Regions from separate parts of the Homo sapiens genome. Here regions 1 and 2 are each linked to region 3. The links come from fine-mapping of genetic effects on gene expression. A gene starts in region 3. Each other region holds a variant in brackets. All regions are shown on one strand. Distances are from middle to middle. Region 1 holds the start of INSM1 (INSM transcriptional repressor 1). Region 2 overlaps CFAP61 (cilia and flagella associated protein 61). Region 3 holds the start of CFAP61 (cilia and flagella associated protein 61).

Region 1 (8,259 bases), 320 kb after region 3:
TGCGCCGAACAAAGGCAACGGCCCGCGGGCGGGAGGCCCGGAAGGTGCCTGGGGCCGGGCCGGGCGGGGTGGCGGCCAGGCGGGCTGCGCGTGTCTCTCGCGTGCCCCTGGGACTGACACAACAACCCCTCATTCCTGCAAATACAAAGCCTCTCACCGGCTCGGGTCGGGCGCACCCGGCGCAGGGAGGCGCTGGTCCCTCCGGGCGGCGGGCACTGCAGCGGTAACGCACGGTTCCTGCCGGTTGTGGCTCGGGGGACTGAGGGCCGGGAGTGGGGGCTTCTGTGAAGCCAGAAGAGAAGTCTGCAGCAGAGTGGTGATGAGGGGCGCTGACACCTCACCCCCAACGCCGACGTCTCCAAACGCGATACCCTCTGCGGGGTGAGAATGCGGGCCCGCCCGGCTCCTCCCGTGAGGCCAGGGCCTCCTGTTCTCCTAGACACCCCAAGGAGCCAACTCCTCCGCAGAAGTTCCCCGCTTCTGCTCTTATTTCCAAGCTTCGCGCTTTCTACAAACTCCCTGTTGCCTTGACTTTGATTTCCAGCCGTGGTGAGGGTCAGAGTGAACCCCGGCGCGCTCCCCGACGGCATCCCCGCACACCAGGATAGGAGAAATTGGAGGGCCTGGGGCCTCGGGCTCCGCAGTCGTCGGAGGAAGAACCCACCGCGGGGTCCGCAAGGGAAAGTGAAGAGGCCCGGGATTTTTCCAAAGCGCTGGCCAGGACCCCGAAGGAAGGGGAGGAGTCACCTGAAGCCGGGGAAGGCCCCTTGGGTGCTCTGCCTTGGATCCTTATGTTCACTGACTTTCGCGAAGCCCCCCTGGAGGGGGGCAAATCCGCGCTGTTTCCCCCAACTTAACTTCACGCGGCCCATTCTCCGAATCGCGTGCGCCAAGGCCGGCGTCGGGGGCGCACTGTGATGGCGCTTTGCTCTTCCCAGGCGAAGACAAATATCTCGACCCGATGTCCCCATGCATGCGGGTGCACAGGTTCTGAGAAAATCACGCAGAAGGCGGCTGCGATCCACGGCCCGGGCTGGGCTACACCTGCTTGGAGGTCGCTGGTGTGTGCGTGCGCGCGTGCGCAGCCTAACTCCTTCCAGCCCCGGGTGGTGAAATTAGTTTCCAATACTAGTACCTTTCAAGTTTCCATTTATTTTGACTGTACCCGTCTGAAAGCAGATTTCATTTACGCTAGCAAGACTGGAAGCCACAAATAAAGAAAAAGAAACGGATTCATTGAATCTCAGTATCTCAGTAGCGTTTAATAGATTCCCTTGGCTAAATTCAGAGCCCTGTTTGAATTCACTCACGCAGGAGTTGTTTTGTTTTTTTTGTTGGTAGAGGTGCCGGTTTCCCATCCCCACGGCTTATTTACAATTATGGGTGTTGTTATTTTTAAAGGATTCACAAGGTGACTAACTCTCTGTTATCTGTTGAATGGAAGGAGTGTTACATATGCAAGACCGAATGGGGCAGGCCGAGCCCCCGCCCTATGCTATTCTACAATCCAGATGGGATTCGTGATTAGAAAATAAAATTGGCCAAAGCTGTCTCGGAATCCTTTTCCCACTTCTAATTTCATCAGCACTATTAATCAGAGCTCAAAAGAGCAAGGAAATAACATCAGTTACTTTTAGATAGAAATATGTTTATAAATTTTAGATAAACTCATTTTAAGATTTCTAACTTTTGGGGAGACTAGCACTCACCACAGCATTTTTAAAACTAGGGTGAGACTTTTCAAAATATATTTCACTATATGCATTCTTCCCTTTTCAGTGTGTGAGTTAAAATATTACAAACATAAAATTATCAAATATCTTTCCCTTGATTAACCAACCTGATTAACCCCTTAATTAATTAAGCCTAACAACTGTCCCCATCACAACTTATGACTCATGTGGACTCTATTTTTACATGTTTAATTTCTACGCCAGGGTATTTTCAGAGGGAAAATCCAAAACAATTAAATACCTTCAGTGGAATTAAGCGTAAGTAAAACTCAGCAAAATCTGTCTGGTATACAAAGCTTTGCAGAAAAATGTTTCCTTCTCTTTCAATAAAGTGACATTTTCCTCACAGCATATGACATTTTATGTGGCTTGGCTATTTGTTCCCCAGTGTTGGACGATCAGGGCCACTACGCACTCGTGGGGTTCTCTGCCCTGTCCCCCGAAGATTCTGCCTTTTGTGTTTCCTCGGGGCTGGGCTGGACAGAGGATGGAGGCAGGCGGCCCAGTCTGGGTCCAAACGGAACGGCAGCGGAGGTGGGGGTGGGGGTGGGGGCGGGGGGAATCTTCGCTGTTGTCTCTTCCTGGTGGCACAGGGGAGGCGGCTTGTCCTCTCGGAGGCCTCAGCCTGCCTCAGAGTACAGATTGCCCCCCCTCCCCCCGTCCAGCACGCGTCTCTTTTGCGTCCAGATTGGCCGCGACCGGAGCTCAATAGCAGGAGGTTAATTTCCTTCACAAAGGTGAAGGGGGCACGGCTCCGTGGGGGCTGCGCCCAGACAGGCAGCCCCTTTATTTCGCAGCGCCTTGATTGGAGCCCTTGATTTAGCATCTGATGTCAACCGGCAAACAAAATGCCCGCTCGGAATGAAAATGCATGAGGCCGCGCGGGGAGGAGAAAGCCAACTTCACTGGGGCGCACGAGGCCGACCGCGCGTTTCGGGCTTCGGCCAACTCGACCCGGATTAACCGAGCCTTGGACCACGCGGAAGCTCCGGGCGGCCTGGGTCGGGCCCCGCCAAAGATGCCATTCCCAAGCCTCCAAGAACCCAAAAGTTCAGAAATTCACGTTCCTCTGGGAACCCAGCCCAGCCCGCCCGCGCTCCAATCCCGCGCTTTCGGGAGACTGAGAAGGCCGTGCCAATTCCTTCTCAAACTCGAAAGAAACCTTCTCTAGCCCCGTGGGCGCGCGGAGGCTGCGAGCACAAACATCGCCCTCGGCCACTGCCAGAAGGCCGGGCCCCCTGTCCACACTTGGAACCCCGGGGAACCCTTTTGCTTGGCCTCTTGGGTCCAGCGGCCCATCCGTCCAAGGTCCGGGCGGAGGCCGTCCGGACCCTGCTGCTCTCTCGGATTCTTGTTTATTTCCCAAACACCACGCGGAGCCACTGCGCCTCCGCAACGATCTCCCCCGCACCGCCCCGGCGCGCCCCCGCCCCCACCCAATCAGCGCGCACAACTTCCCCCTCGGCTCCGGCTCGCGGATTGAACCCTCCTGACATATTTGGGGCCATTCTTCTCCTTTGTTGCTATTTTGCTAGCGACCCGCGGGTAATCCCCGCGCGGGAGGGGGGCGTGCATTGTCGCGCTGATGGACGGGCCCATTTGGCGGCTCCGCGCCCCCCGGAGGAGAGACACAAAGCCCAGGCACGTGCGCCTCCCCATAGAGAAGCAGCAGACCGTGAAGGGAGGCGGGGCCGGGCGTGTGCCTGGACCGGGCGGGGCGGCGGCGCCGGGCGGGGCGACCAGGGGCGCGCGCGGGGGCCCCGCGCCCTCAGGTACATCTGCCGCACCTACCGGGCGACCCCCGAGTCCCGGCCCCCTTTTGGCCGCCCCATCGCCCTCCCACCCTGCCAGGCTGAGGAGCTGCGGACGCGCTGATTGGCTCCAGGGGAAGCGGGAGGCGAGAACAATGGCCCCCTCCCCCCGTTAAAAGGGAGCGGCTGCCGGGCCCGGGGACAGGGACGCGCGTGCAGGGCGCAGAGCTGGGCCGAGCCGTCGCCGGCGCCACGCGAGTCCCGCAGCCGCCGCGCCCGGGCAATGGGCCGGGGGCACTGAGGGCCGCCGGGGCCGAGCGCGGAGGGGGGACCGAGCCAGTGCCGTGCCCTCGGGCCGCGCCAACATGCCCCGCGGCTTCCTGGTGAAGCGCAGCAAGAAGTCCACGCCCGTTTC[C/T]TACCGGGTCCGCGGCGGCGAGGACGGCGACCGCGCACTGCTGCTCTCGCCCAGCTGCGGGGGCGCCCGCGCCGAGCCCCCGGCGCCGAGCCCGGTCCCCGGGCCGCTGCCGCCGCCGCCGCCCGCGGAGCGCGCCCATGCAGCGCTCGCCGCCGCGCTTGCCTGCGCGCCTGGGCCGCAGCCACCCCCGCAGGGCCCGCGGGCCGCGCACTTCGGCAACCCCGAGGCTGCGCACCCCGCGCCGCTCTACAGTCCCACGCGGCCCGTGAGCCGCGAGCACGAGAAGCACAAGTACTTCGAACGCAGCTTCAACCTGGGCTCGCCGGTCTCGGCCGAGTCCTTCCCCACGCCCGCCGCGCTGCTCGGAGGGGGCGGCGGCGGCGGCGCGAGCGGAGCTGGCGGAGGCGGCACCTGCGGCGGCGACCCGCTGCTCTTCGCGCCCGCCGAGCTCAAGATGGGCACGGCGTTCTCGGCTGGCGCCGAGGCGGCCCGCGGCCCGGGCCCCGGCCCCCCACTGCCCCCTGCCGCCGCCCTGCGGCCCCCGGGAAAGCGGCCCCCGCCCCCTACCGCCGCGGAGCCGCCCGCCAAGGCAGTCAAGGCCCCGGGCGCCAAGAAGCCCAAGGCCATCCGCAAGCTGCACTTCGAGGACGAGGTGACCACGTCGCCCGTGCTGGGGCTCAAGATCAAGGAGGGCCCGGTGGAGGCGCCGCGGGGCCGCGCGGGGGGCGCGGCGCGGCCGCTGGGCGAGTTCATCTGCCAGCTGTGCAAGGAGGAGTACGCCGACCCGTTCGCGCTGGCGCAGCACAAATGCTCGCGCATCGTGCGTGTGGAGTACCGCTGTCCCGAGTGCGCCAAGGTCTTCAGCTGCCCGGCCAACCTGGCCTCGCACCGCCGCTGGCACAAACCGCGGCCCGCGCCCGCCGCCGCCCGCGCGCCGGAGCCAGAAGCAGCAGCCAGGGCTGAGGCGCGGGAGGCACCCGGCGGCGGCAGCGACCGGGACACGCCGAGCCCCGGCGGCGTGTCCGAGTCGGGCTCCGAGGACGGGCTCTACGAGTGCCATCACTGCGCCAAGAAGTTCCGCCGCCAGGCCTACCTACGCAAGCACCTGCTGGCGCACCACCAGGCGCTGCAGGCCAAGGGCGCGCCGCTAGCGCCCCCGGCCGAGGACCTACTGGCCTTGTACCCCGGGCCCGACGAGAAGGCGCCCCAGGAGGCGGCCGGCGACGGCGAGGGGGCCGGCGTGCTGGGCCTGAGTGCGTCCGCCGAGTGCCACCTGTGCCCAGTGTGCGGAGAGTCGTTCGCCAGCAAGGGCGCTCAGGAGCGCCACCTGCGCCTGCTGCACGCCGCCCAGGTGTTCCCCTGCAAGTACTGCCCGGCCACCTTCTACAGCTCGCCCGGCCTTACGCGGCACATCAACAAGTGCCACCCATCCGAAAACAGACAGGTGATCCTCCTGCAGGTGCCCGTGCGCCCGGCCTGCTAGAGCGCGCCCTCCACCCCGGCCCCCGAACTGTGCCTTCGCTTGGAGACCCACAAAGAGAGTGCGCCCTGCACTCCCCGAACCCGAGTCCGCGCTGGGGGAGCCTCGCCCCCGCCCCCACCGGGTGAAAGTGTCGTCTCCGCTTCTCTCGGTGTGGCGTGACGGTAACCCCATACTCTCCTTTTGACTCCTTTTGGAACCCCCACTTTTACGTTGTGTCCCTCCGCCTCCCCCATGGCGCAACAGGAGTCAGTCTCTTTCTGTACAAGGGAGAAAAGCTGTACGCGTTTGTCTCGTGGTTGGAAGCCTCCCCTTGGCGGGGAGAAGCTTTTTTTCTTGCTAGTATTCGCTGTGTTCATGGTCTAGAAATGCGGTCTGGTCTCGCCTCGCCTACCAATCTCTGCTCTCTATGTATGTAGCGTACGGGTTGTTTTGGGTGAATCTTGAGGAATAAATGCCTTTATATTTCACAGGCTGTAAATTGAACTTCCCACACGATTAGCTTTATTATGGCTTGTGAACTGCTGGAGTCTGGCTTTACCTTTTTGTATGTGAACAAATCAAATTGCTTAAAAAAGAGTTTTCTTTAGTATAGCCACAAATGCCTTGAACTGTTGTCTGGGATTGTTTTGTGGGGGGAGGGAAGGGAGTGTTCCGAAGATGCTGTAGTAACTGCCTCAGTGTTTCACGTAAGACTTTTTGGTTTGATCATCTTTGTTGAGGTAGGACTATCAGTTCCCTCTAAATGTATATGTTGATTTATGAGTAATTGTTATTTATTCTTTATTTATTTATATTAATTATGAAGATTATGATATTATTTGATTGCAGATTTTTTTGGCGCGCTGCCCCCTCCCCACCCTGCCACTCTTGACATTCCACTGTGCGTTTTAGAAGAGAGCCTTTTTCTAAAGGGATCTGCTTAAAGTTTTAACTTTTATACCTATCTGAGTGAATTACAGACAACCTATCATTTATTCTGCTTCGAGGGTCCCCAGGGCCCTTGTACAACCGACAGCTCTTACTTTTAAATGCAATCTCTTTTCTACATACATTATTTTCTTAATTGTTAGCTATTTATAGAAAGCTTCAATAGAACTGTTTCAACTGTATAACTATTTACTATTCAAATAAAATATTTTCAAAGTCAAAGTGTGGTGGCCTGATTTCTGCATCACATGCTTTCAGGACGAATTTAAAATAGAGCTTCTGATGGTTTCTTAAAATGTAACTTTATTTTTTATTAGGAAAAAGGGAACCACCAGGATGGTGGGTTTTCAGAGCTGAACCTCAGCTGCGGAACTCTGCCCTTCTGGCAGCCTGAGGGTATAGCCTTGGTAGCGGCTGGCTGAAACAAGCCTTGTTGGGGTCCTTAGTAATGTGCCAGGAGGCGGGTTAGAATGAAGGCCCTGGGCATCTTTTCAGAGAAATCTAGATCAGTGTCCCTAAGAAGCTGTTCTTTGCACTGCACTTTCATTTAGCAAGTCCTTCATTCCCAAAAATTTGGGGCTCAGGGTGATAGTAATTCCTCAGATAAATAAAGTGGGTAGTTTTTGTTCACGACAAGAAAGGAGAAATGACTTTACCGTCAGATTTGCAAAGCACGGGCAGCAACCCGATTCACATTTGGATGCAATGGGAAGTTAAGCAACTGGGGGCAAGGGCTTAGAAATAATTTTCCAATCAGGTGAGCAGTCTGTTTGGGGGGAAAATGGAACACCATCTGTTTGGGGTATTAAATTTAATAACAGGTAATTACAATGTTTTCCATTATGTGTCACTCAGCTCTTTCAAGAACAATTCTGACTCTCACCAGTGAATATTTTGGGTTGTTTTCCTCTGTCTTGGAAACATCTCATGAAGGAGCTGTGCTAAATCTCACAATTGTGCATGTGTGTGTTCCCTTCCTTTTGTGTGTTTTTGCTGCCTTTTTTTTTTTCCTGAGGTCCGCTAAAGCTAACATTTGCCTGCCAAAGAGATTTTAGAAATCTGCACAGTAAAGGGATTTGCATCTCCAAAGAAGAGCTGGAATGAGGCTGGGAAGGGCAGTCCATGAGGAACTTGGAAGGACAAACTGAGGAAAGAGATCATTTTCAGATTGTGAGCCTCAAGTTTTCTGTGGGACGGGGTTTAGCTAGCAGGCTCAGCTAGCAGGAATGTGGAATATTCCTCCCTTTGTGAGGGTCTGGAAACAGCCTTCGAATAACAATGAAGGAGAAACCTCTACAGGTAAGTTGCCTCCAGGACAAATTGCATGGAGCTTTTTATCACTGATGACTACATATTTTACCAGTTTGGAAAATAAAAGAACAAAAAGCTCAGGGCTGGTACAATAGGAAAGCACAGGGACAGAGCAGCATTTATAACATCCTAAAAACTTTAAACGAAACAAAGAAAAACTCAAATGTGTGGGTTGATGGCTGCTGCTTCTCCCCTCCTGCAACAGTAATACTGGAGAATGGGAGCATTGAAAATATTCTCTCTGAGTTACACCAAACATTAAAAGATACCCCAAACTGAGGGTCAGTGTATGCACGTTCTGTGGCAATAAAGTTTCCTTAAAAACTGGAAGATTGGCCGCACATGGGGAGTCCAGACTCGTCTGCAGGAATGGTAGCTTGTAACTATGTTGGGCTCACTGTGGTTCTCGTCTGTAATCACAAAAACATGAATTCATCTAAGATCCACCTTCATGAGGGTAAATATAATTTGGTTGTTCACAAACATGTTCCTTCATCCCCTGTATAAATTTATTTCAATGGAATAAATGGAACCCGAAACATCTATGTGAGATATTAAATGAAACTGTATAGTAAATGGAGTTGAAGGCAATGAAACAGCGTAGAAATAGAAAAACTTGGTCAATTTTTATCACGGTAA
Region 2 (8,259 bases), 110 kb after region 3:
CCCACCCATATCCTCTAGCACGTATTCTTCCTGAGCACTCTGTGAAGACAAGGACTGCAAGTGCCTGGTCTTTCTTCCATGCCATGTTTGCAGCAGGGCAGGCTGTTTGGGGAAGCAGCCATCAGCCAGTGACTGAAGGGATTGGAGAATCAATTTGCCAGCTCCTTCACCTCTTAGGTGGGACCACTCTGCACTGTGTTCTCTAGGCTTTCGGAGATCCAGGTGGGGTTGATTCACCATAGTCACCCACATCTTGAAACACCCCATGCTGGCAGCCTCCCCTTCCTCACCTCGCATGCCACTCCTCTTACAGAATTTCCTGGCTTTGCTCCCCAAGTAAACTACTGACTCTCAGACACTTAATTCAGGGTGTGTTTCTGGGGCAACCCACACTAGGAGACTCACTGACCAGTTGGTCACTCCCTGTGCCCTAGGGAGGAAAGTCAGGGTGTAGAAGAGGACAGCAGTTTTCTCTCTAATATTCCTAAGAGGGTAGCCGTTCCGTTATGAACCCAAGCAAGGATGTGGTTGGAGGGACAGGATGCCTGCCCCCACCACTGCATCAAACATGGTTGGAACCCCAGAAGACACCTGAGTCAACAAGGTGGATTGATCTCCTATTTTTATCTCCTCTCCCTACCGGAGAAAAACACTGAAATGACAGTAAAGGGATAAAAAGGGCACAAATCCACAAAGGTGAGATGGAGAGGAGATATTGGAAGATAAGCACTTTAAAAATATTGAGAATAAAAAAATCAATGGAAGAGTTTACATTGGCTTAGCACAGCTGAGGAAGGTGAAACTCAGGCATCTTTATGGGAGGAGAGACTGGTGAAAAGTGTGTGAATTCTGCACAAGGCTGAAGACTGGAGGTTTGCAGAAGGTGGGGTGAGGAATTGGGCTGAAAAGCTGGGCAGTCTGATGTGGAGTGACTGGAACACTGGATCCCTGCAGACTCCAGTTAGGTTGTCAGCCACACCCCAAGTGAGAGGATAAAATGACTATTCTCTAGAGAAATTGAACAGAGGCTGCTGCTAATTCAGATTTAGCCTGTGCTGCATGGGCGTTGTAACGGTGAGGAATAGAGAACAGACAAGTAAGTGGAATTCTCCACTTCGAACAGAGGAATCCACAGCCCCTCCTCCAGCCACGCCCTCTCAATGCCAGGAGCCAGGCCTTGTATTAAGTTTCTATTGCTGCTGTTACACATTACCCCAAACTTGGTGGCTTATAACAACACAAATTTATTATTGTGCAGTTCTGGAGGTTAGCATTCCAAAATGGGTTTGAGTGTGCTGAGCTTCAGGTGTAGACAGGGGCGTGTTCCTTCTGGAGACTCTAGGGGAGAATCTGTTCCCTTGCCTTTGCCAGCTTCTAGAAGCCACTTGCATTCCATGCCCTGTGTCCCCTTCCTCCATCTTCAGAGCTGGCAGCGCAGCATCTTCCTCCCTCTGACTCAGACCTGCTGCCTCCCTCTTAGCAGATCCCTATGATTCCTCTGGGCCCACCCGGATCATCTAGGAGCATCTCCTCATCATAGAACCCTTCATGTGATGACATCTGCGAAATCCCTGTGCCCTGAAAGATAACATATTTACAGGTTGCAGGGACTAGTACCTGTAACATCTTTGGGGACCACAGTCCTCAATACAGAATATTGGAGAACTTAAGTCCCAAAAAACTGACAGGCCCAAGGAAAATGCCTTCAGATGATGTCACTGAAGGTGGCCACCCAGTAATAATGCCAGATCTCTGCCTGATCACCCCATGAAGTGCCCCAGTTAGCCAGTGTCTGTGGAGTTTTGCCTCTCAAGCATGTTGCTTTTAGGAAGCTAAAAATGTGCTCTAACGATATGAGGGCCTAAATGATGAACAAAAAAGACAAAGAAAAGACCTGGAACTTACAAAATAGGAGCTGCAATACAGGCAGGACGGCAGAGCTGCAAGTCCAGATTAGAGGGGAGAAAAAAGGAAGCTCATATATTATCTCAAACGCCTGATCATTTGGAAAATAATAGTGACCAACACTTGGCAAATCTGATAAAGGAAGTGAAAAACTTAGCAAACCAAGTGAATAAAAACTAAGCACACAGATGAAAACATTGTCATATTACACTACTTTGCTCAGCAACAACAGAACTTACACATTCATATTAGTGTAAATACTTACGGATTTAACCCTGAATTGTGATGTAATTTTCCTGGGGGATAAGATGTGGGGAAGAGGGTAGTATGAGAGGGATTAATCTAGCCACTGCATCAATATTGAATAGGAAATTCTAAAAACTAATGAATTTAGAAACAGCACCATAAGCATATTGTTCAGAAATATAGAGGTAAATATATACCCAAATAAATGAAAACGTTGAAAGTTCTGTTCAATGGGGGTAGAGACTTGGAAGGACAGAGAACTGCTGATTTTCTTAATAAATGTTTGGTGCTAATATTATTTTAAATTTTTCCATATGCATGTATTACTTTGATTTAAAAGAACTCCATGAGGGATCTCAAAGGGAATCATCTTCTGAGTTATGACACCTTTTTAGGTGCACCTAAACCAAGACAGAACAGCCTCAGCCCTGACTTTCCAGGTGGCTGTGGTCCACTGGACCTTCCTGGGCTCCACCTCCCCACGATAGTTACTCCCAGGACCACCTGAGCAGTCCCAAGATTCAAAAATTCTTGTATCACAATGAAAACAGCTTTGGGGACAGAGGGATTTTGCTTCTGGAGTTATTATAATATGTATATAATACTATCACGCTCTAATCTCTACCCTGGGATGCAGTTAAAATATGGACCCTATGTCAAAGGCCAACTGAAACTATTTGTCTTGTGTGAGACCTTCATGTGAGAACTAGTTTTTTTTTTCTTTATTATTATTATTTTTTAAATTTTATTTTACGTTCTGGGATATGTGTGCAGAACGTGCAGGTTTGTTACCTAGGTATACATGTGCCATGGTGGTTTGCGGCACCTATCAACCCGTCATCTAGGTTTTAAGCCCTGCCTGCATTAGGTGTTTGTCTTAATGCTCTCCCTCCCTTTCCCCCCGACCCCCCTGACAGGCCCCAGTGTGTGTTGTTCCCCTCCCTGTGTCCATGTGTTCTCATTGGAGAACTAGTTTTTAAAAACATTTTATGAATTTTGAGTATCTCATTAAGAACCTCTCCTTAAAACCAGGCCTGGCCCAGGATGAGTTGTTTCGGGTGACAGTCACACCTGTCCTCAGAACGGTGTCATGTAGAGATAATGCAGCCACCAGCCCACTAAATTACAGGGCATTGACAGGATTCTCATTGGCTCCTCCTGTCTCCTTGCTCTAGGACATAGAAAAACTCAGTGACATCTCCACTGGATATGCACAGTATCACCATGTCAGCAGTAGGAGCTTGGCATCGCTC[G/A]TACTGCCTGAAGAGCCCGTCCACTTCCGCCCCATCTACAGGGGAGCCTCAGCTGCTTTTTGTATTCAGCTGTTTTGTATTGATGAGAAATATGAAGCAAGGCAAGTACTGACCTTCTGGCTGGCTGTCACAGTGAGAATCTTTTCTGGCATTGGTGGCCCAACATTTTAACTTTACAGAGCCAGTAATTTCCAAACCTGGCCCACATCCTAATCTCCTGGGGAATTTTTTAAAACACAAATTCCTAAGCCCCATCCAGAGATTCTAGTCCATCAAATTTTAACAAGGCCTACAGAAGTGGGCTAGAAATCTGGCCTACCTATGTAACAATTGGGAATCTGGAAAATTATCACTTACATAACCACATGCTGCTCCCATTCTGTAAAGTTTGCATCTCTTGGATAATTTGAATTTGGGTTACTGGTTGTCTAGAGTCTTTGGTTGCAAGTAACAGGAAATCCAACCAAACTGGCTTTGAAAAAAAAATTGAATAATTGCCTCACATAACTAAGGATAACTCTGGTGGTGAGACTGTTTTAAATATGGCTTGATCTAGGATTTATTTAGATTACCAAATCAAGGACCAAGTTTCTCTCTCTACCTCTTCACCCTGTGTGTTAGTCTGTTTTCATGCTGGTGATAAAGACATACTCAAGACTGGGTGATTTATAAAGAAAAAGAGGTTTAATGAACTCACAGTTCCACGTGGCTGGGGAGGCCTCACGATCATAGGGGAAGATGAAAGCCATGTCTTACATGGCGGCAGGCAAAGAGACAATGAGAGCCAAGTGAAAGGGGTTTCCCCTTATAAAACCATGAGATTTCATGAGACTTATTCAATACCACAAGAACAGTATGGGGGAACCACCCCCATGATTCAGTTATCTCCCACAGGGTCCCTCCCACAACACGTGGGAATTATGGGAGCTACAATTCAAGATGAGATTTGGGTGGGGACACAGCCAAACCATATCACCCTACTTCCCTGCTGTTGGACCCCTTCTCAGAGGAGTGCCCCATCCTGGGCCTAAGACCACTGACATTCTCAGGTCTCAGGTCTGCATCAGAATCCAGTGAGAAGGACTTGCCGGGATGGGCCCAGCTTTTTCCAGCCAAAGTCTCATGAGGCCTGACAGGACTGTGTGTTCATTCCTGAGCCAACGGCTGTGACAAGCCCATGCCACAAGGAGATGGAGAAGATGGGCTCCATCCCTTAGCTCATGCTCCATGCCAAATCTGCAGCTGGAGTCTCAGCTACATGGAATATCTGAGCAGGGGATAAGTTGACACCCAACAGCAATCCAGGGCTACAGCAAAGAGGAGGCATGCATGGTGCTGGGCTTTGTCTAAAGCCCCGGCGCCCACCAGACCTCACAGCCACCCACCCTGCCCCTCCAGAACACCCACATGTTCAGTGCTTGCTGTTCTCCTGTGGTCTGGACACTGGACGCTGCCCTCAGTGCCTGGATTCCACATCTCCTTAGCACCCACCCCTCATCTGTTCACAGAACCATCTCGAAGAGGAAATAATTGGCCCATTTTGATGGAGTGGAAGGCTCTAGGGTGTCTTTTAGATGAGCAAGAATAGCTGGACAGTTCCTCTTCAGAGGATCTGTTTAAACATGTTCCCAGTCTCCCAGCATCCCCTGTTGTACTTTAACTTTTTTCATCTCGAGTTTTTAGCTTCTATGGAGATCTGGGACATTGAAAAGAAATTCTTTTTATTCTAATTATGTTGTAGACATATAAAACCTTGTAAAGCCTTTCTATATTTGTTGCTTTATATTTCTTTTATCTGTACATTTAAATATGATTGTGCTTAGAGTATACTTTTTGAATTTTGAAACAGGAATTTGATGACCCAGTGTGGTTTGCCTATGAATGTACATCTACAGCTAGTCAGAAAATCTTCAACAGATAAAAGGGAAACAGATCAGAAGCAACCTATAATATTTCCCACCTCTCCTCTTAACTCTTCCAAAACAGAAGGGAAGGATCGGAGGCACAGAATGACCAATTTTGTGTTGGCTTTTCAAATGCACAGAGATTGTTAATTGATGTGAAAGTGCCTTCAGTTCTGCAGAATACTTTATTACTGACATACGAAGCTTGCGACTTATGCACCCCATTAGTGTTCACCTAGACACACATTCTGACTAGTGGTTGGCTAATCGCTGCCCGAGGGGAGGGAGCTGTAAATCTCTGTAAACGTCCACTGATGTTGCATTTGCTTGCAGGGCACTGACAGTGCTTACTGTCTTGTTTACAGGTCGCTGGATTTTATGAATTTTGTTTTCAGTCTTTTTTCTGTAAGTACATGCTGAATTTTGAGAACTGATTTTGTAAGCTTAGAGAACTTATAGAAAAGTAAAATGCCATAAATTTATTATGCTGTGAATGTTGAGGTTTGTGTTCGGAGAATAAGGTCAAATGGCATGTCATGAGCTCATAAAAATACAAAATATTGTCATTTTCAAGAATTTTTAAGTCATGCTATTTTAGCAGTTCTCTTTAAATGCAAAATTTCTGTTACACATAGCTTTACCAGTGTTTTATCAGAATCAAATCATTCATAGTAATACATGAAAATGTTGGAAATTAAAGTGAATGACACTGTTATTTTATAGATTATGTTGGCTCCAAGTATTCTGAAACCATCATATTGCTTTTCTGAGGGTAGCAAAGTAGGGACTTGTTGATTTTGAGGTTGGCATTTCTTTCCCTACTAGTTCCTCAGGCCTGACTTCATGCCTGGCTGGTAGAGGGGGCTCAACCCACATTGATGAATGGGCCTGCAGGCTAATATCCAAGTACAAATAAGATTCTCCATGCCAGGGTGTCCCGGGCTTCTGCCTACATTCTTGTCTCATTATTTTCTAGGGATGAAGATCTAACCAAACTCTTACACTTCTTTATTGAAGGAAAGAAAATGAGGAAGGAAGTTTTGAGGGACAAAATGCATTTTTATAAAGACAGGCCTGTTAATTAAGTAAAGTCAACAACTGTACTTCTCCAGTTGACTGATTTCAAGAAAAGTATCTATTGCTTTACTTTTCCTGGATACTGTTTCTAATGAGGCAAAAACAAGTATAGTTTAATTATTTTGTCTTACAACTATGTGATGTTAGGTTTTATTTCCTCATTTGTTATTATAATGAAGCTTTATAATAAGGCAATATGTTCTCCATCATAATTTTTAAAAATTACTTATTAAGGCACTTTCCAAACAATGTAGATTACCCTGAACATAGGATTTACAAAGTCGGTTTCCCTCAAAAACTCCTCAAATAAATTTCACTAATTTTAATTATTTTCTACTTTAACGTCCATGTAAACGTAAATATTTAACATTATAAAAGTAATGCTGGCTTTAAAAAGGTAAAAGAGCTGTTTACATTTCAATTCTATTTGACTTCGGAACATGGACGACAGGAAAAAAAATAACCTTGGTTGCTTCATCCTTAATCCTTCAAATCCAAGATGAAGCAACTCATTATAGTTAGTCTCTCCCTCCCAGAGGAAGCCCACCCAGACTTGGCACCCAGTCCTTATTTTCAACTTGAGTATTTCAGCAACTTGACTCTCAGGTTCCCCAAAAGGAGTCCTACTAATTTGCTAAAAAGAAGGAAGGTAAGGTCAGACAATGGTTCACTCCTTTGAGTTGCACAAATGTCCCCAGGGTTTTGGATTAGCACAAGTAATGCCTTCACAGGGTTCAAGAGGAGGCGAGATCCCAAAGGGACAAATTAGCTTCGGGAAGAGCAGGCTGCTTCTGCAGGGACCTGGCAGAGGATCAGGCAGCTGCGTGAAGCTCAGATAGCCTAGAGCAGCACTGTCCAGACATGGAGTGTGAGCCACATTGGTAATTCTGAATGTTCCAAGAGCCACAAGGAAAAAAAAGAAAAAGGAACAGATGAAGTTTATATGATAATATCTTTTATTTAACTTAATATGCCCAATCCTTTTTTTAAAGAGATAGGGTCTCACTTTGTTGCATGCAATGTCACAATCATAGCTCACTGCTGCCTCAAACTCCTTGGCCCAAGGGATCTTCCTGCCTCAGCCTCCCAAATAGCTGGGACATGCCACCATGCCCAGCTAATTAAAAAAAAAATTGTAGAAATGGGGTCTTGTCATCTTGCCCAGGCTGGGCTCGAACTCCTGGGCTCAAGTGATCCTCCCATCTCGGCCTCCCAAAGTACTGGGATTACAGAAGTGAGAACTGTGCCTGGGCAAATTTAATCATTTCAACATATAATCAATATGAAAACTTATTAATGAGCTATTTACAATCTTTTTCTCGTACTGAGTCTTTGAAATCTAATATATATTTCACATTTATAGTACATCACAATACAAGTACTAAATTTTCATCAGAAATAGTTCATCTGTATTTGTATGTTATAAAATTTACAGTTGGATACGTAGATTCACATAATCCAAGCACACATAAAACTTTTCCAGTAATGGAATTAAGTATCCATTTTTTTAATTTAAATGAATTTAAATGAAATAAAATTTAAAATTTAGTTCCTCCGCCAATACTAGCCACATTTCATTGTCTACTGTACTGACAGGGCAGGCCTAGAATAGAATGAATGGCAGCCCTCAGGACATGCAAGACCTCTTATGTCTGCTAACTAAACCCACTGCCTGGGTTTAATCATGCTCATGGATCTGTTCACCCAACTGGGATCACGTCATGATAAAATACGTACACATTGGTTTATGGATAATCACAGAATTTTAGAGCCAAAAAATGCCTGAAGTATCATCCTCCCATCTCGCAAGAGGAAGGGACCACTGGTGTAAGGTCACTTAGTAAGCAAGGGGCCTTTGCTAGGACACCATGCTA
Region 3 (8,021 bases):
TAATGCAATGTGATTTATGTTATAGTCAAGATCTGCACGGGAAACAGAGAGGAAGAAATGAAAATGTTTGGTGGAAAAGGCTAAGTAGTAGGTAATTGTAGAAATGAGAACTTGAGGAACGTTCCGATTTACCAGGAAACTAAGTTTGGTGAGGAGGGGGTGCTCATTCCAGGCAAGGAGAACAGTCAAGCCTCACGATAAGGAGACATGATATATTCAGGGAGTGGCACATACACAGGCACAGTGGGGGAAGGAGGTATGCGGGGAGAATGCAGAAAGCTAGACCACAGGAAGGGCCAGATTGCAATTTTTATTTTTTTTGGCCATTGGTTTTATTTTTTTTGGCCATTGTTTAGCTGAAATTTGTAAAAATCTCAATATATACAAAGCAAATGAAATTGTGCTTCTTTAGCTACAACTGACAAGATCTATCTCTAAAGCCTCTTCTGCCACCCTCCCCAGGACTATTCTACCCCAGTACTCCTGAGGCCCTCAAGGGAACCCTAGGGTTCCATGGAACCAAAGTTGAAAATTTCTACCCGAGGCACAATCTTTTACCTGTGCTTTAACTTTTTCTTCTTTTCTTTTTGGTATCTGTTAATCTATGAATCATTATATACAAAACTACACTCTCAGTAATTTTACCTTTGAATCTCCTTTAGGCTTTCTTCCCATTGTGCGTATTTTATCCAGTTACTAATCACAGTCCTGTTTTTTCTTATATTATCTTCAAAAGTCTGGAAGAAGGCAAAAAGGGTCAAGTCAAAAGACAAATGACTAAAAATGACAGCACCCTTGGTCTATTTTAAGTCTTGTACTAAAATGGTTATTCATTTTGTTCATATTTAAGAGAAATTACATCCTGGAATCCTTGAGGAATAAGAAACCCACTACAGAAGGTTACAGTCAACTAACTGATACTTTAAAATGGTCTATGCTTGTCCCTAATAAAAAATGTTTTTGACTATTACCTTTAAGTCCTCTGGTAATTCTCAGAATTTCATATATAACAGCATTAGTGCTTTAAAACAGTCCCACATTCTAGAGTGAAGAGGTCAAATCAGATCCCAAAGTCTTCTCATGGTCCTTTTGCAGACCTCAATTCCTTTTCCTTTCTTTCTTTCTTTCTTTTTTTTTTTTTGAGACAAAGTCTTGCTCTGTCGCCCAGGCTGGAGTGCAGTGGCACGATCTCGGCTCACTGCAGCCTCTGCCTCCCGAGTTGCTGTGATTCTCATGTCTCAGCCTCCCGAATAGCTGGGATTACAGGCACCTGCCACCACGCCTGGCTAATTTTTGTATTTTAGTAGAGATGGGGTTTCACCATGTTGGCTAGGCTGGTCTCAAACTCCTGACCTCAGGTGATCTGCCCGCCTCGGCCTCCCAAAGTGTTGGGATTACAGGCGCGAGCCACTGTGCCCAGCCAGATCTCAATTCTTAACACAGAAGGTGGTATAGACAGAAGTACACAGTGCAGCCTTACTAAGCATACCCTCCTTCTTGTTGTCAGTTGTTCCATCTGCTAAACTTCCGCTCACTTTGATTCAGCATCAAAAATTATGCAGATTCAATTTCTTTACACTTTAACCAGACAACTCATGGCATATTTTATATAGTTCAGAAAAATGCTGTTATCTGGTAACCAGAAGTACATTATTCATGCGTCTGGAAACACTTAACCTCATCTTGCCCTACAGAATCCAACCAATGAGGAGCTTTTCAAACTGACCGATACAGTCTTAACAATTAGTGGACTGAAAGATACCACACTGACTGACCTTCCTTTTCCTTAGTTTATAATCATTTAATTCTTCTTCATCTGTGATCTTCTGTTGAGGTGGAGGTGGAAGAAGCTCAAGTTCTCTTTCTTTAGCCTCTCTTAAGAGTTGTTCAGCAGTTATCTGTACCTCAGCCGGGGCTTTGTTTTTCACCTTTTAAGAAAGAAGACATTTCTATTTTTAGTAGTTGCTCTTCACACAAGGCTTAAGAAACAAACATACATTTTTTAGGATATGAACTTTGTTAGTATTATCACAAGATGCCCTTTTTGTATGACATGTTCCCATTCCTCCATGAGACTGAAAAGAAAAAAAAAATACCGTTTTCTCTCTTATTCATAGTATCTACTGCAAAGCCATAGGTAAAAGTCTCAAGAGAAAAAGGTGGCAAAAATAATAGCAAGTTTTCCCTTTTAGATGAGTATAATAATAAACTTTGAGGCCGTCTAGGTAAAATTCTGACCAGAGGTTTTGTTTTATCAAAATGTGTAGCACATCTTATTAACAGCATTACAACCTGCATTTACAGAATTCTTCAACTTATTTAATGCCCCGGTGTATAACTGGGTTTGGTTTTACATGGCACTTCAAGTCAAAGGCAATTTCAGTAAGTTCTCATCATTAGACTGTAAGCTTCTTGAGGTCTTAGAAGCTTACAGTCTAACGTAGCTTAGAGCTGTGCTGTCCAACACAGTAGCTATGAGTCACATGTGGTGAGTACAAATTGAGGTGGACTGTAAGTGTAAAATACACATTGGTTTTGAAGATGAAGTATAAAAAAGAATAAACTACCTCATTACATTTTTTATACCGATTACATGTTGAAATGATAATATTTTGGATACATTAGCTCAAATAAAATATATATTATCAAAATTAATTTCACTTTTTTGCTTTGTTTTTACTTTTTAATGTAGATATGAGAAAATTTAAAATTTCATATGTGGTGTGCATTATATTTCCATTGGACCAGTGATGCCCAATAAAAGTTTATGTAGCTGAATTATAAAAAATGTTACTTAATGCCACATGTGGAGTAATGATGATAATGGTGATAGCTCATATTTAATAAGCACTAAGTGCCAGACACAGTGTTACTTGCTCTATATGCATTACTCCTGCGAGTCAGACAAATAGTTATGTAAAGGTCCAGTTCAAGAGAGTCATCCGGGCTCAAGAAAGACTGGAGGGAGGGTATCTGTAAAGGCTTCAAAGTCTGCCACATATTAAGCACTTGGTAAGTATTAGCTATCAAAGGAAATACCAGATAGTAAGTCTACTGTTTAATTAACTTATGATACTATACTACTCCTACCGTCTACTCTCGCCCTCCGCTGTCAGCTGGGCTAACTCCTATTCAGCCTTCAAGTCTCAGCTTAAAGGTCATTTCCTCAGCAAAATTTACTTTCAGGACCCCTTCATACGACCCCCTTATTCACGCCCATGGCATATTCTACTTTGCCTCTCGGTAACATCTAGCAAGGTCGTCTTTATACAGAAACTCGTGTTTTGAGTACTGCTTGTGGCCAGCGTACGAGCGTAGCTTCCCAGCGCCCAGTGCAGTGCCTGGCTCAGTAAATCTTCACCGAACCACCCCACTCCACTCCCCAGCAAAACCACCCCAGAACGAAGGCCACGCCAACGCGGGTCGTGCTCCGCGATGACAAGAGCCCGCGCCCCACCACCAGCTGCCCTTCCTCTCCATCTCTCAGGGTGAGCCTTCTCCCCGGCGGGAACACTCTCTCCCAACCCGGGCACCCTCAGGGCTGAGGGATGCCCCTTTCCTAGGCCACCTCCTACAAGGCCCCTCGCGATCGCCTACCTTGGCCACTTTGGGAATCCGCTGCTTCCCGGCCGCGGTGGAGGCCGCCATGTCTGCAGCAGTCGACCTCTGGACACCTGTCCCCGGCACGGACGCTAGAAATCGGCTCTGAGAGCTCACCGAAACCACAAAGCTTTCAGAAAACAAACAGGATCTCGGAACCGGAAGCGGAACTTGCAGGACTGACCTTTGACCTCTCGCTTGAGCCGTGACGGAGGCGGCACCGTTTCCATGGTGACCAGGCTGCGCGTCCTCCTTGCGGCAGCGCGTGGAGTGCGGCGTCCTGGAGCTGCGGATGAGGTGGGTAACGCCGTGCTGACTAGCAGCGACGCAAGGACTGCGGTGCAGGGCGTCCAGGGCGCATCCCCAGGTCAGCCTCCGGAACTGGGATGACCAGGCGAGGACGAGTGGCTCTGTCGAGCCGTGGCGCCCTGCAAGGGAGTAAGAACGGAGCTCCAATCTGGATGCTCGAGGGCGGGGGAAGAAGGGAGAGCGAGGAAACTACCATTCCCAGCATGCGACGGGGCGAGCTGCCGCCCTTTTAGGCTGCAATGCCTCGAGCATTGCATTCTAGTAGTCTCTGGGTCCACGCCCCCTCGTTTCTGGTTTCGGGACAGTTGTGCCCAAATAATTCTAAGGTGCCCAAATAATTAACTCTAAGGCTTGGAATTAAAAATAACAGAAGGTACTTTGAAGCCAGATATTAGGAAAAAATATAAATAGAGTAACTGGAAAACAACTCAGTCTTGTGATAAGAAACATGTTTAAATTCTGTGTGTGCCTTAATTACTCTAGTTAAATTTTCTTAGCCTCAATGTCCTCAACTATAAAACAAGGCTAATAACATCTGTTTCACTAGGATTAAAGACAAATGCTCAGTAGATGTTAGCTGTTATAATACTTAACCTGCCCTCAAAAACTGAAAAGCAAAGGTTAAGAGAATTTTTTTTAATAGACATTTTTAGAGAAGTTTTAGGTTCACAACAAAATTAAGTGGAAGACACAGAGATTTCCTCCCTCCACAGCTTCCTGCTATCAATTATTGTACCTCTTCCCTCCTCTAACAGCCTCCAACTCTTAAAAATATCCTCCACCAGAGCAGTACATTTGTTACAATCTTGAACCTACATTGACACATCATTATCACCCAAAGTTCATAGTTTATATTAGGGTTCACTCTTGGTGTACATTCTATGAGGTTGGACAAATGTATAATGACATGACTTGGCAGCTCATTTGTTAGGATAATTTCCACAGTTGCAAAGCTCTTTTGGTGTTTGGGGAAAATATATATTTATGTATGTAGTAATATCACGTCTACCAATGCAGATATTACTTTCAACAAAAGATTTATGCAGATTTCTAGAACTGCAGTCAGTTATAACCAACATCAATGTATTTGCCATAACTCTTTATTAACCATATTATTTAGATATTTTATCTCACTTTTCAAAATTTAAATAGAGAAGATTTTATATCACTTTCATAAAGCCACCTAACAAAATAAATAAATATTAAAAAGATGTTTCTTTGAAGTGATTTTCCTTAAATGTGTTACTGTAAACAATTGATTTACCAAATGAATCATTGGTTTAATCATCTGTTGCCTTTGCTCAAAAGTACAAACATGCTAGAATACTTTGCTTCTGATCACCATCCTTCTCTCTTACATTTCTGTTGTCTGGCAATTCAGTTCATCTCTGTGTGTGTTTTTTTTGTTTGTTTTTTTTTTTTTTTTTTTTTAGGAAAAATGTATTATCCTTCTTACTTTTTGCCATCAATGCTTTTGTAGATATACCTTCATGTTTACCTTCTTATTTCCCAGCATTTAATCTTGTATTCCACTTCTTTCTGATTTTATTCTTCTCAGAATATACCATCTCCTAGTTCTTTCTACAAGATTCTTTGAATTCTTTCAGTCTTTGTATGAAATTGTCTTTATTTTATCTTCATTTTAAAGTGATTGTTTAGGTTTATCAGTCTAGGTTAATGGTTATTTTTTCCTTTTATATTTTTAAAACACTATTCTAGTAGTTAGAAAACTATGGGCCGTAGACTAAATTCAGCCCATTGACTATTTTGTATGGACTGTGAATGAGCTAGGGATATATATATATATATATACACACACACATACATACACATATACACACACACATTTTACATTAAACTTTATATGTAGTTTACATTTTAAACATTTTTTAAAAATTACATGGCACATGAAAATTATACATAAGTCAACTTTCAGTGTATGTAAGTAAAATTTTGTGGGAATACATTCATGCTCATTTGTGCCGATATTGTCTCTGGTTGTTACTGTGCTACAATGGCAGAGTTGACTAGTTGTGTAGACAACATGTGGCTCATAAAGCTTAATGTATTTATTCTCTGGCCTTTTACAGAAGTTTGCTAACCCCCGTGCTACTGGCTTCTAATGTTGCTCATGAGAAATATTCTGTCAGTCTAATTATTTTTTATAGACAGTCTGTCTTTTGTCAGGTTCCTTTAAAGTTTTCTGTTTGTCTTTAGGGTTTTGTAGTTTTACTATATATTTGGAGTTTATTTGTATTTTTTGCTCTGAACTGAAGGTTCATGTCTTTCATCCATGCTAAAAGTAATTAGCCATTATTTTCAAATGTTTCATTTATTCCTTTTGGAATTCCCATAAGACAGATGTTTTTCATTCTGTCTTACATGTGTCTTTACTGAATTCTGTATTTTCTGTTTCTATGTGCTTCTTTCTAGATAATTTGTTCATAAGTATCTTCCAGTTTATTTTCTTTATTCTTCTGTTTTTAACCCATCCTCTTAGTTTAAATTTTAATAACCACGTATTTCATTTTTTAAGTTTCTGTTCTTTTTTAAATAATGACCTGTTCTCTTCTCATGACTTTTGTTTCTCTTTCTATATTTCTTTATTATAAACATACTTAGTTTGTAGTCTGTTTCAGAGTCTATCATCTAAAGTTCTTGGTGACTCCCATAATACACAGATTGTGTGGACTAGAATGCCATACCCACTTTAGTCTAGAATTTGGACTTCTCAGCAGTATTTTTGCTTTATTTTCTACCTAGAGCTTTGTGTAGAGAAAGCTTGTCACTTTCTTGGGCTGGTGAGTTTAATTTTTCTAGCCCCCTCACTTACCGAGGGGCCCATCCAAAGTCCCAGGTAGATGCATGGTTTAATTTTTAATTCTCTGTTTGGAGTGAGGTCCATTCTATCCCCAAAACCTGTGTCAGATCGGCTCACATCATTGCCACCTGGTTGGAGAATTTCCCTCGCTCGCTTTCTTTCTTCTTTTCTTGTTTTCTTTTTACCAAAGTCAGTTATCTAATTAATTATACTTCCTTATTTTATTCAGAATTTTTATATACTTGTAGCATTAGTTTATGATATGTTTCACAAACAAGATGTCTCATTCCAATTTTGCTTTCAATTTAAAACCAGAACAAGGAATGACAATATTTATGGTTAGCTTCGATAGGAGTCTAGACATTATTAATTTCTCCTTCATTGTTTTCCCTGTTTTGAGCTCACTGGCTAGTATATAATAAAATGGCTTTCCCTATGAAGGAAAGAAGGGAGGGAAAGAGAGAAGAGAGACTTACAGAAATTGAGACAATGAGAGAGAAATTGAAATCATTTTGTGACCTACTGTTTTTGTCAACAGCATTTCCCAAAGTGTCCTTCTGGAACGTTAGGTTCTCCACTGTTGCCGTCATTAGAGATTCTCTTCCCAAAGAGTGTCGGAAAGGCTGGGTTATACAAAGAAAACAAGTTGCTTTATTATGGAACCTCTCAAAGATGTTAATGGGCCTGGTGGCCCTTCAGGAAGCCTATTGCGAGCATTTCCTACACTTAACCACAGAACTTTTTTGGTCTCAAAATATGTCTCAAGACTGCTGACCTTCAGGGCTCCAGTTTGGAGAACTCTATTAAGAACATAGGCAGCAGCTGTCAGTATTTCCCCAGTAACTCTTCACCACATGCCATCGTGGCCGATTAAATATAAGAGGACCCTGAATCCGTAAATAATTCCTTTCAATGTTTTTCCAATTCTATTGTTAGAATTTTTTAAAGCAGCTTTGTTGGAAACAAAGAATATAGTTGCAGAAACTTCTAAACAGGCCAGTTCTCAGAAACTTCATTCTCCTATGGAGGAACGTCAGCTGGTTTGCAGTGACAGTTGTCACAGACTACACCCAGGGGAAAACGTGTCACACCAGTATTCTCACACCATGTTCACTCTGACCACATGGAAATTGAATTAGTGTTCAGTTTTGTGTGTATTATAACCAAACTGGCTTATCATATCAGATTAATAGTGGACTTTTTTCTCTCTTTTGGGGACAGGATAAAAAATGTCAGTACTCACTTCTCCAAGAGGAAAGGTAGAAGTTGTTCATTGCCGAAGAACAGAATC

What was found. PIP is the estimated chance that this variant, and not a neighbour inherited with it, causes the effect.
Region 1: its variant is fine-mapped to the expression of CFAP61 in prefrontal cortex (CommonMind, PIP 0.95).
Region 2: its variant is fine-mapped to the expression of CFAP61 in nasal epithelium (TOPMed, PIP 0.99).

The regions. Positions count from the first base shown.
Region 1 is chr20:20,364,419-20,372,677 of GRCh38, forward strand. INSM1 (INSM transcriptional repressor 1) reads left to right here and starts at 3,686. Exons shown (of 1, transcript NM_002196.3): 1 at 3,686-6,531. The coding sequence starts at 3,850. The coding sequence ends at 5,382. RefSeq lists an enhancer at 2,779-3,549. The variant C/T (reference allele first, on the strand shown) is at 3,900.
Region 2 is chr20:20,160,724-20,168,982 of GRCh38, forward strand. It overlaps CFAP61 (cilia and flagella associated protein 61), which reads left to right. Exons shown (of 27, transcript NM_015585.4): 11 at 3,327-3,505; 12 at 5,674-5,713. Among named protein-coding and RNA genes, the nearest start is that of CFAP61-AS1, 100 kb to the right of the region's middle. RefSeq lists a silencer at 4,676-4,841. The variant G/A (reference allele first, on the strand shown) is at 3,405.
Region 3 is chr20:20,048,695-20,056,715 of GRCh38, forward strand. CFAP61 (cilia and flagella associated protein 61) reads left to right here and starts at 3,838. Exons shown (of 27, transcript NM_015585.4): 1 at 3,838-3,897; 2 at 7,924-8,021. The coding sequence starts at 7,960. CRNKL1 (crooked neck pre-mRNA splicing factor 1) reads right to left here and starts at 3,772. Exons shown (of 14, transcript NM_001278628.2): 1 at 3,598-3,772; 2 at 1,776-1,928; 3 at 646-737. The coding sequence starts at 3,648. RefSeq lists enhancers at 3,627-3,796, 3,807-4,106 and a silencer at 4,197-4,246.